Regions from separate parts of the Homo sapiens genome. Here region 2 is linked to region 1. Evidence: fine-mapped expression QTL. A gene starts in region 1. The other region holds a variant in brackets. All regions are shown on one strand. Distances are from middle to middle.

Evidence for each region. PIP is the estimated chance that this variant, and not a neighbour inherited with it, causes the effect.
Region 2: its variant is the best candidate, but not a certain one, in a credible set for the expression of SLC35B4 in kidney cortex (GTEx, PIP 0.60).

The regions. Positions count from the first base shown.
Region 1 is chr7:134,314,679-134,320,062 of GRCh38, forward strand. It overlaps SLC35B4 (solute carrier family 35 member B4), which reads right to left and starts at 2,252. Exons shown (of 10, transcript NM_032826.5): 1 at 1,997-2,252. The coding sequence starts at 2,073. RefSeq lists a silencer at 1,793-1,962 and an enhancer at 2,043-2,772.
Region 2 is chr7:134,352,996-134,358,379 of GRCh38, forward strand. No RefSeq gene overlaps it. Among named protein-coding and RNA genes, the nearest start is that of SLC35B4, 39 kb to the left of the region's middle. The variant T/G (reference allele first, on the strand shown) is at 2,934.

The DNA of each region.
Region 1 (5,384 bases):
GTGTCCACCACCAGGCCCAGCTAATTTTTGTATCTTTAGTAGAGACGGGGTCTTACCATATTGGCCAGGCTGGTCTTGAACCCCTGACCTCGTGATCCACCCACCTCGGACTCCCAAAGTGCTGGGATTACAGGTGTGAGCCACCATGCCTGGCCAACTTTTTTATATTTTCAAATCAATTGTTGCCAAAGTGGCCTTCCTTTAAAAGTGTATCAGATTTACAGTTGGATACAATTTTTTTTTCATTTTTTATCCCTCATCACCTATTCCCAAGTCAAATAACAGATCTTTATCAACACTTTCTGTACAATAAAATGTCAAGCTCCGTAACAGCAAAACTTAACCCCACACAGAGTTTACCTTAAGTAAACTGGTTGCTTTGGGATGATTTAATCAATGATATCAAATAAAATAAACTTCTAGTAGGCACCACATGAAGAACTGGATGACCAAAATCTATGGGCTGCTCAAGTTCAAAACTGGCAGGGAGGTTGAAAAAGGTATTGGACTAGGAGCTTAGATATCTTGGGTCCCATTTCTGGCTCTGCCACTTACAAGTAGTGAAGGGTCACCTAACTTCTTTGGACCATTTCCACTTCAGTAAAACAGTTTATAATTCTTGACCAATCTTCTGCACAGGATTGTTCGGATGATCAACAGAGATACAAGTTGAGTATCTCTCATCTGAAAATCTGAACTCTGAAATGCTCTAAAAAATATGAAACTTTTTGAGCACTGATATGATGCCACAAGTGAAAATTCCACACCTGACACCTTTGCTTTCTGATAGTTCAACGTATACAAACTTTAATTCATGTACAAATTATTAAAAATATTGTATACAATTACCTTCAAGCTAAGGTTATGTGTATAAGGTGTATAAGAAACACAAATGAGTTTGTGTTTAGATTTGGGTACCATCCGTAAAATATCTCATTATGTATATGCAAATACTCCCAAATCCAAAAAAAAAACAAAAAACAAAAAACACCAAATAACACCCGTTCCCAAGCATTTCAAATGAAGGATACTCAACTTGTAATGTATAGATTCAGAAACACGAGCTAGAGAACACTATAGGTATTGTTTTACTGCCAGGAAAAGGAGCCCAAGAGAGGCTAAGTGACTTGAAGGGCTACACAGCCAGTGGACGACGGAGCCAAGAGTGAAATTCACAACCCAGCTTTTTAGTCCTGGAGGCTTTTCCACACCACCTGTTGTCTCTTCTGTTATAGCTTCTATCCACTGAACTTTGCACATTCAAAGTGACCTCAAAGAGCCCTCTCAGGTCACTTGGACCAATCTTCTACTTGCTTTTTTTTTTGTCTTTTTGCAAGCCACCTCAAAGAGCACTCTCGGGTCACGTGGACTGATCTTCTACATAAAAATCTGTTCTACCGCATCATTTATGTATGTTTGGGCAAAGTACTCATAACCATTTCCAAGGCCAATAAAGCAAATGCTTTGCAGGATGCCGTAATAAAAATAAAACTTTCTTTGCAGTATGTACAAAGTCAGACTGCTTTACAAGTCAAAAACCTTTGCTCAAGTCCAGCCTGTGCCATTTAACAGGATCGAAAAAAGAGCTAGAGTTGGATGGGAAGGAAGAGAGAGTGGTTTGGTGAAGGAACCTTGGTTCTGACACTAGCTCTCTGCCGACCTTGGACTGGTCATGTGAAAAACTCTTCAGACTTCAATACCCCCCGAGTGTGGAAAAGGGGTGACGACAGCAACACCCTGAGTCTTCCCCTCGCAGGAATGCTTTGAAACTGTTAGGCGGGACTGCCGCCGGTGCGCAGTTTTGGGAAGCAGCGGACTCAGCGGGGTCCCAGGCTGCCCAGACAGGACGGATTGCTGGGGGGCTCAGGCCGTCCTGCCCCGGGCTCCGTGGGCGGCGGGGTGGGGACAGGGCGTGGGCGCGTCCCGGGGGGACCTCTCCTCTGGCTTCCTCCGCCCCGCCCCGGGAGACCGGGTGCGGCCCGAGCGGGTCACTCACCGGGCCAGGAGCTCTAGGAAGATCACGTTACTGCAGCAGCCTGCGAACACCAGGCCCACCGCCAAGGCCGGGCGCATGGCCGGTGCAGGGTTGGGGAAGCAAGCGCACAGAGTAAGCGCCCGCCTGTACCGCTACCCCAGGAAGCCGGCCTCCTGCCTCTTCGCTGCGCAGCACATCGCACCGTCCTGGAAAGCCGCTCTCACTGGGGGCCGCCGCGGTCTCCCCTTCTCCCGCGGCCAACACCGACGCTGCCAAGAAGCTGTAGTTCGCAGTCAGCTTCGGTCCCATTCATCCGAGGGGGCGTCCGAGCCCCGGCCAGACTACATGTCCCAGGATGCCGTGCACCTTTACCTCAGGATGCGACGTTCCCGCTTCCGCCAGGCAGCTCCGCCAGAGAGGACAGGGGGACGAGGTGCCCGGCATGACTCGCGCGATAGGCGGCCGCGGGTCTTGCTGGGAAATGAAGTCCCAAAGCGTCAGTGTTTCTTGCGAGACCGCCCAGAGCGCTGAAAGTAACTCGGCCGCCAGGGTCACAACAAACTTGCTGGCAGCGGCGGCACTAGAACTACAGAGCTGTGACTGCTCGTTGGAGGTGTTCTAGCATCTGAAACAACTCTGCTTCCTGAACTGATATATATATATGTATCTTTGGTGACTCTATTATGCTGCCAGGATTAAGAACCACTGAGAATTCAAGTAAAGCAATGGCTCTCAACCACGTCTGTACATTGGAATCACTTGGAGAGCTTTAAAGATGACTGATAGCCAAGTCCCACCCCCAGCGATTCTGATTTAATTAGGCTGAGGTGCAGCCTTAAAGGTGATCTATTGATATTATCCCTAATCCTAGCTCTTTAAGGTACTCCCTTCCTTTACCTCCGTGGTTCTCAAACTTAGCTGCGCAGTCAAATCACCTGGGGGCTTTGAAAACTGCCAACGTCCAGGCTCTTCTACTGGCAAAAATGCCAATATCAGCAATCAGATCTTTAATGGTGAAAAGAAGGCATACTTCCCTCTTCTTACAGTGGAATTCTCATAGCACTTACAATCTGAGCCATTCGACTTGACTCTTACTTACTCAATGAACAAATGTTTGTTAAGCACATATTACGTACATAAGCTAGTGCGGCACTATTCTTTATTTGTAAAATAGGTATGCACACTTTATCCACCCAGCAAGACTAGTTTTTAAGGGAAACGTGTTTACACTTCCTTTCTGCTTCCCAGTGTCTACTATAAAAGGTTAGCATCACTGCTCAGTATTTTACCACATCAAATATTTCCGTTGTAATTGAATCCAACAGCAATAGCAAAGTACACGGTACAAAGCTAGGTAGGATTTTGGAATGCTATATTGTTTTTGCTATTTCCTGTGAGACACGAACATTCTGAAGTCTTTCTCGAGATCTACAAAATAGTTTGGAATGCTTTTTTCCCAGTCCGTGACTGGGAGATCACATTGGAATCATCTGAAGTACTCGTTATCGAGTGCAGATTATTGGGTCTCGCTTTAGACCTACCAAGTCAAAATCCTTGTGTATGGGTTCTAGAAACTTGTATTTTTAACAAGCACTCCACGTTCTAATTCTAATGCATTCTAGAATTTGAGAACTGCTGCCTTAAAAAGGTGAGTAGGAAGAAGAACTAACATAAATAGAAAGCCTACTACCTGTGAAATTCAGTATTTAATGAGCACCCGTCTTGAGTTTGCACAGTGCTGGCACATTAAACAATGAATTATATATACATATATACACGTATATATACCAGTTATATTCATATACACATATATACACACACACATATATATATATATATAACTGGTATATATACAGGTATATAATAGTACCAGTTCTACCTCAGACCAAGTAAAGTGGACTATCTGGGAGTGAGGCTGAAGCAATGATAATATCTCCACCTCCACTATCAATAATCCTGCCAACAGGAAGCTGGTCTGGATTTTCATCTGGATTTCATTAGAGGTGATTTCTCTTCACACAGACCTTCATTTTCCATATATGCCACTAATTTGGAAGCCCTTAAAGGATGTTCTAAACATTTCTCATTACATCTCAGATAAAAACCCAAGCATGTCTAAGTGATTGCACAAGAAAAAAATGGCCTGAGTACTGTAATATTTGCAAGAGTTCTGTATCTTTCTTCCTTCCTCCACATTTCTGTCTTCACCTACTGCAGTGAGTATTAATTTAATGTGCATGTTAATCACTTGGGGATCTTGTTAAAATGCAGATTCTGATTCACTAGGCCTGCAGCATGGCCTGAGATTCTGCATTTCTAAGTAGCTCCCAGGTGATGCTGGTGCTACTGACCTGTTGACTGCACTTGGAGAGCAGAAGCCTGTAAAATCATTAACTCTGAAGACCTCTCTATCCTCCCCTCTCATTTGCTCAGAGAACTCTTGCTAGCAAACCTGTTCTCAGACCAAAATCATGCTCAAAGAAACTAACTTATCTTTCTTCCTCCCTCATTTTACCATCAACTCTCTTTAAAGAGTAATCTACATTCGTAGTCTCTACTTGTTAAATCTCCAATCAGCTTCTTAAACTACTCTGATCAATGCCAGGGTATTAAAAGCAGTCCTGTTGAGAGCCGTGATGACTTCTTAATTGTGAAAACCATATAACACAGTCTCACCTTACTTGATCTGGCAGTGGCTTTTTACAATGAAAACCCAATATTTCTTGACATTCTCTTGTCCCTCTGTTTATAAGACATGAGTCTCCTGTTTCTCTTTTGACTTCTCTGACTTACGCTTTCCAGTTTCCTTAATGGGCTCTCCTCCTCTGACCACTGGGTTCTCCTTTCAGAGTTCCATCATTTATTCCCTCCTCTCATTGCCCTGCACATGTTCTCTTGGCGATTTCACCTCTGGAACTTCCACCACTGCCATATGGAATAGTGATCCTGCGTGTGTGTCTATGTACAGCCCCCATCTCCCTTGTGTCCTTAATCAAAATTTCCAGTGTCTTTGGAATGTTCACTAATGTTTCCCTGTAAACCCCTCACCATTAGGGCATACACATTTCATTACCTACCCTCCCTAATAGGCCTTTATTTCTATTAAGAACATTGTACTCTACTTCTTCTCTTTGGGAAAAACCTGAAAGTTTTCGGTCTTCCTCTTTTTTCCACTGCACATTTATTTGCTCTTTATATCCCATCGGTTCCACCTCACAAGTATCTCTAGATTCCAGCCTTTCTTGTCCATTCCCATTGACATCCACTTCTTCTCCCGTAAAGGCCTCCTAACATCTTGGTGCCTTCAGCCTCTGTGTTCTTTAACCCATCCTCCCTGCTGCCTCCAGGCTGATTCCAAAAACAAACCCAAAATCTTCATGTCCCATTGCTATTCTAAGATGTCTTTTCT
Region 2 (5,384 bases), 38 kb after region 1:
AATGAAATACATATTATATATATTTTACATAACATTATATGTGTGTGTATATATACGTAATGTATATATACGTAATATATATACGTAATGTATATAAATGTGGAGAGTGTGGTTTGGAATTTAGATGCACTCATTGTTTAAAAAAGAATGTAATTTTCTCTGCCTTAGAAAACTTGGTGGTCACAGAAGGATAGGAGGATACTGGCAGCTTGGAAGGCTGAAGGAAGAGGCTTCATGGGAGAAAGAGACCTAAGGAATCTCTAGTCCCTAGGTACCTGGAAATCCATACACATCCCCCTGACCAACCAAAGTCCCAGTTAGGAAAACATGGATATTGCCTACAATATGCGCCCCTAAACCCCTGCCCCCAGCGCCTTCTCCCTCTGCCCGGACCACAGACCGTTCCAGGTGTCCCAGAGCCACTTGGGACCATGTGAACTCAATGAACAAGTGAGCAGGTTCTTCTTGTGGGTTTCAAATGAATGTATGGCAGGACCATCTTCAGACCTGTTGAGACCTGTTGAAAATCTCAACATCCTGCTAAGTTATACTGCCAGGAAAGAGACTGGCCCAACTGGATGGCTGTGGCCCCTTCGGTAGAACTTTCTGTCACTCGTTTCAGGCTTGGCATGAAGCACAGCTGCAATGTTTTGCCACTTTTCCTTGAACTTTGTTACCTTTTCGTTTAATGATTGCCAACCTCATGGGCACTCCACTGTGCATGGAGTCGGGTATGGAGGAGTGAGGTGGGTGCAAAAATAAGTCAAAATATCTCTATCCTCAAGGGCTTTATGGTCTAGCAGAGGAGGTGAATATATAAGCAACAAATTATGAGTCAAGACAAGATGAAAAAAATGCTAAATGGGCTCTGAATCTGAAATGACACAGAGCAGGATCTTTGATCTCAATCTCCTGACTAAATCCAGAAATACACCAGTCCCTCCATAACGACTCAATACTTATGTCAGTAGTTTGAGAAAGGAGTTTAAAATATCAGCTGATGAAGAGACTCTTCATGTTTAACTCCCTGCAAATATTTTTCTGAACAGATATGACTATTTTCTAGTATATGTAATCAATACTGTTTTCAAATAGCTTCTGTGAAATTTGCTAGAAAGATTCACCTAGAATGGTCCTAGCCCCTTCCTATCAGAGCTTGGGGAGCTCCTCTCCCTGCCCTCCACAGGATAGCCCTGGAGGGGATCTTAGGTTGAGCTTCTTGAAAATCGGTCATTTTTATGTAAAGAATTGGTGTGAACAGAGGCTGAGGCAGAAGAATCACTTGAACCTGGGAAGCAGAGGTTGCAGTGAGCTGAGATCGTGCCACTGCACTCCAGCCTGGGCCATAGAGTGCGACTCCGTCTCAAAAAAAAAAAAAAAAAAAAAAAGAATTGGTGTGAATGGTCCCTTTCCTCTGATAGTGAGCCCCCCACTTTCCTATCTGCAATGCAGTTTCTTCTAAATGAAATAGTGTGATGATTTTAAAAATTCAGGCCTGGGAGGCCAAGGCGGATAGATCACTTAAGCCAAGGAGTTTGAGACCAGCCTGGGCAACATGGTGAAACCTTATCTCAAAAAAAAAAAAAGAAAAGAAAATTAGCCGGGCTTGATGGCACACACCTGTAGCCTGTAGCCTCACCTACTTGAGAGTCCGAGGCATAAGAATCACTTGAGCCCAGGAGGCAGAGGTTGCAGTGAGCAGAGATAGTGCCATTGCACCCAGTCTGGGTGACTGCAGTAAAACCCTGTCCCAATAATAAATAAATAATAATAAAAAAATTTTAGGTCTGTGTCTTTTTTTTTGTTTTTCACATCAGGGTCCAACCACAGAAAATTGGGGACAGTGCCAAAATGGGACTATCCAAATGCGCTTCCGTGTGCGCCTCAAGTCTGTATTCTCTTTACCTCTCAGCAGTGAAAACTTCATGCCCCCTAGAATGCTGTCAAGGGGAGGTGCTGCTGGCAGGGAGTGCAACTGCCCAGGCTGGCTTCTCTGGAAGCAGTGGCTGAGATAAGAGTCTGGGCTTCAAATGTGTATTAGGAATTAACCTCCGTAAAAAGAAGGAGGGGTACTGGGCAGAGGAAGGAGCTGAACCTAGATGATGCTGGCCTCAGAAAACCCAGGCCACTCGGGAGAGCCATGGAGCTAGGGCTGCACCATGATAGCTGGCCTTGTATCCTGGCCCTGCTCAGCCACCAGGCACAGCTGCCCTGGGAAATTGTGACCTCCAGCGAGGGAGCAGCTCTCTACAGCTGAGGCTGACCTTGAAGTTGCGGACAGCTAGAGGCTGTCTGCTGACCACACTTCCCAGGGCTGGGCTACAAGTCCTTCCTTGACCTTGTGGCACATCTTTGTGTCGATCACAGGAATGACCACGGGGGGCCTCAGAGGTCTCTGCTCCCTGAGCTGCTGCCTCTTGCAGTGTACAGGTAGATGATATTCAAGGTTTATGTGCTCGATGCTATAGCTGCTCTATGGTTTCTCTGGATGCACCCTGAAGCTACTTGTTCCAGGGTATGCTAGGACCAGGACAGCCCCACATACATGGGAATACTTTTCCGGAATTGCCATGTTAAATTCAAATGATTTCCTTTCTTTCATCAATATGAATCTCTGCTGATCACCTTCAAACTCCCTCCCGCATGCTTAAATGGAGGCTGTTCATTCAAGGACAATACATCAGTAAGATTTTGTTTATATCCAAACTCTAACATCACAAGAAACATTCTCAGGGTGCCCACCCCATGGGGGGATTGTATAATCAACTCACATTCATTAATGTAGTATGTGCTGACTTAAAACCCAACGGGAATTTAATGTAACTTATATTATGCACCTGTTGTGTATTGGGTAAGGTACAGTGTTCAGTTCCCTGGAATGTAGAATGCATGTAATTACCCTCTTCCAAGTTAACAAACAACCCCAGGTAAAG[T/G]TAAATAATCAACAGAGTGAACCAAGGATTATGCATTAAAATAATTTTGGTGTTTTGCTGATCATATGCCCAGTGGGGTTTGGAAGGTTGCACAATGGCATATTGCTAAACATTCCAATGCCACATTACCACAAAAACACAAAACACAAAAACGTCACAAGGTCCAGAAAGACTCCTCGTGTGGACTTTGCTTCTTTATTTGCCAGGAAGCAGTTTGGCCCGAGCAGTTCTTTTTTGACTGTAGGAAGTTGAGGGCAAAGTAAATCTGGCAGACAATGAGCCCTGGGCCAAGCTGCACTCTTAGGATAAGACAGGCTGTGAAGAGGGCCCTGTGGCCAACTTCCCGATGAAGCTGTTGGCACAGAAGAGAAGGGGAGCAGGAATCCTGGCTGGCAGCTTTTACGGGAGTGACTGAGCAGCTTTTTTTTTTTTTTTTTAGATGGAGTCTTACTATGTCCCCCAGGCTGGAGTGCAGTGGCACAATCTCACCTCACTGCAACCTCCGCCTCCCGGGTTCAAGTGATTCTCCTGCCTCAGCCTCCCAGGTAGCTGGTATTACAGGTGTGCACCACCACGCTGTGCTAATTTTTGTATGTTTTATAGAGATGGGGTTTCGCCATGTTGGCCAGACTGGTCTAGAGCTCCTGGCCTCAAGTGATCCACCCGCCTCAGTCTCCCAAAGTGCTGGGATTACAGGTGTGAGTCACCACGCCCAGCCCTGGGCAGCTAGCTATCTTGATAACATCTGCCATCTAAGAGGACATTCATTTTGCCAATTTTATTGTCACCAACAACGTAATATTTACCCTTGGAAGTGATAAGACTAGGTGGATCTACTCTCTTCCTACATTAAACGGGAAGTTGATATAATCACTGAAGCTGCTATAAGCTTCTTTGAATAGCAGAGCGTAGACCTGGTGAGACAGACCAATGCCTTCAGATCTGAGCTTAACAGAGCCTGCCTATGATGACTAGTGACAGGTGCTTGCACACTATTTTCCACAGGCCCATCTGGACTGCACACACTCAACGGATGCCAATTACATAACGATCATACACAGCTGGGAATAGACCCACTTGTACAAAATGGATCCAGTGGTAATGGTGTCTCCCCATTCTCACCTTCATAGCGATGCTTTCAGAAATTCATTAAAGTTTGTTGAGTTTTGATAGTTGAAACTTAAAAAACAACAATGCGTACAACATTTCATTTACAGTTTCAAGGTTTCCCAGAGTTTAAAAGAGTTCTGAATAACTTTAATTGCCAAAGTGTTACAACTCAAAAATAGACCTAGCAAATTTGCTTGGCAGTAAGAATGCTGCTAATTTGACATATGCCCATACATTTTTGAGAGACAAATGTATTTTTAATCCATTTAGGTGCCAGGGGTACTCCAAGCCTGCACATGTTTGAAGTAAGGACAATCCCTATAGGTCAGTGTCCTCATTCATCAGAGGACGGTGGTCTCACCCCAGCTGATTTGACATTTCTTTTTTCCCCGAGACGGAGTTGCGCTCTTGTTGCCCAGGCTGGAGTGCAATGGCACAACCTTGGCTCACTGCAACTTCCGCCTCCCAGGTTCAAGCGATTCTCCTACCTCCCACTTGGTTTGACTCTTCAGGCACACAGTTTGATGCTTAACCATAGCATCAAATACTTGTTCTCCAATGGTTATCAGGGTGTGTAAACTGACTCAATAGCTCTCAAAAACTTAGCTGAGAGAAAGACTATACTTATGGAAGTTTGCCCCTAGTGTATGCATCAGAGATAGCTCATTAAGTACTCTAAATTTACCCCTGGCTTGAGGCAGATCAAAACAGCCTCACATTTTGGCCCCATTATTTTGGACTATGCTCGGTGTTAGGATTTTTCTGAACTCTGAGACATTGTGGAGAACAGGAGCCCCAGGAGACTGTATTTTGCCATAGAGGTGTGTACGGTGAAGAATTAACTTTATCCCAACATAGATCCAGACTTATCCCAGCTCCTGGAAGGGAGCCTCTAAACCTTTGGAATTCCTCAAGTGATCCGAGTGTCTTAGTCATTCATGGTAGACCCCCAGGACCACATCTGATTGTTTATGCTAACCATTTGACTCTGGGAGAGTTAGCCTTGCCAGAAAGACCAACCATATGATTAGCCAGGAACAAGACAGAGTCTTGATTGGAGGGCAAACTGTGTGGCACACTCAATTAAACGAAAAGGTGGCAGATTGTAAGGGGGCTTTTCAGGAAACTCCTCCAACAGCAGAGCTCAATGGGAACAACGTGGGATTTTAAAGCCAGACCTGGGTTCACAACTCTAGTTAATGCTTCTTACGAGTGGTGTGATCTTGGGCGGGACTCTGGAGCTTCCATCTTCTCATCTGTAAAATGGGGATGGTAATATTAGGGTCACTGTGGGATCAAATGAGATCAGGTGGGGATGGCTCCCAGTGCAGCCTGACACGT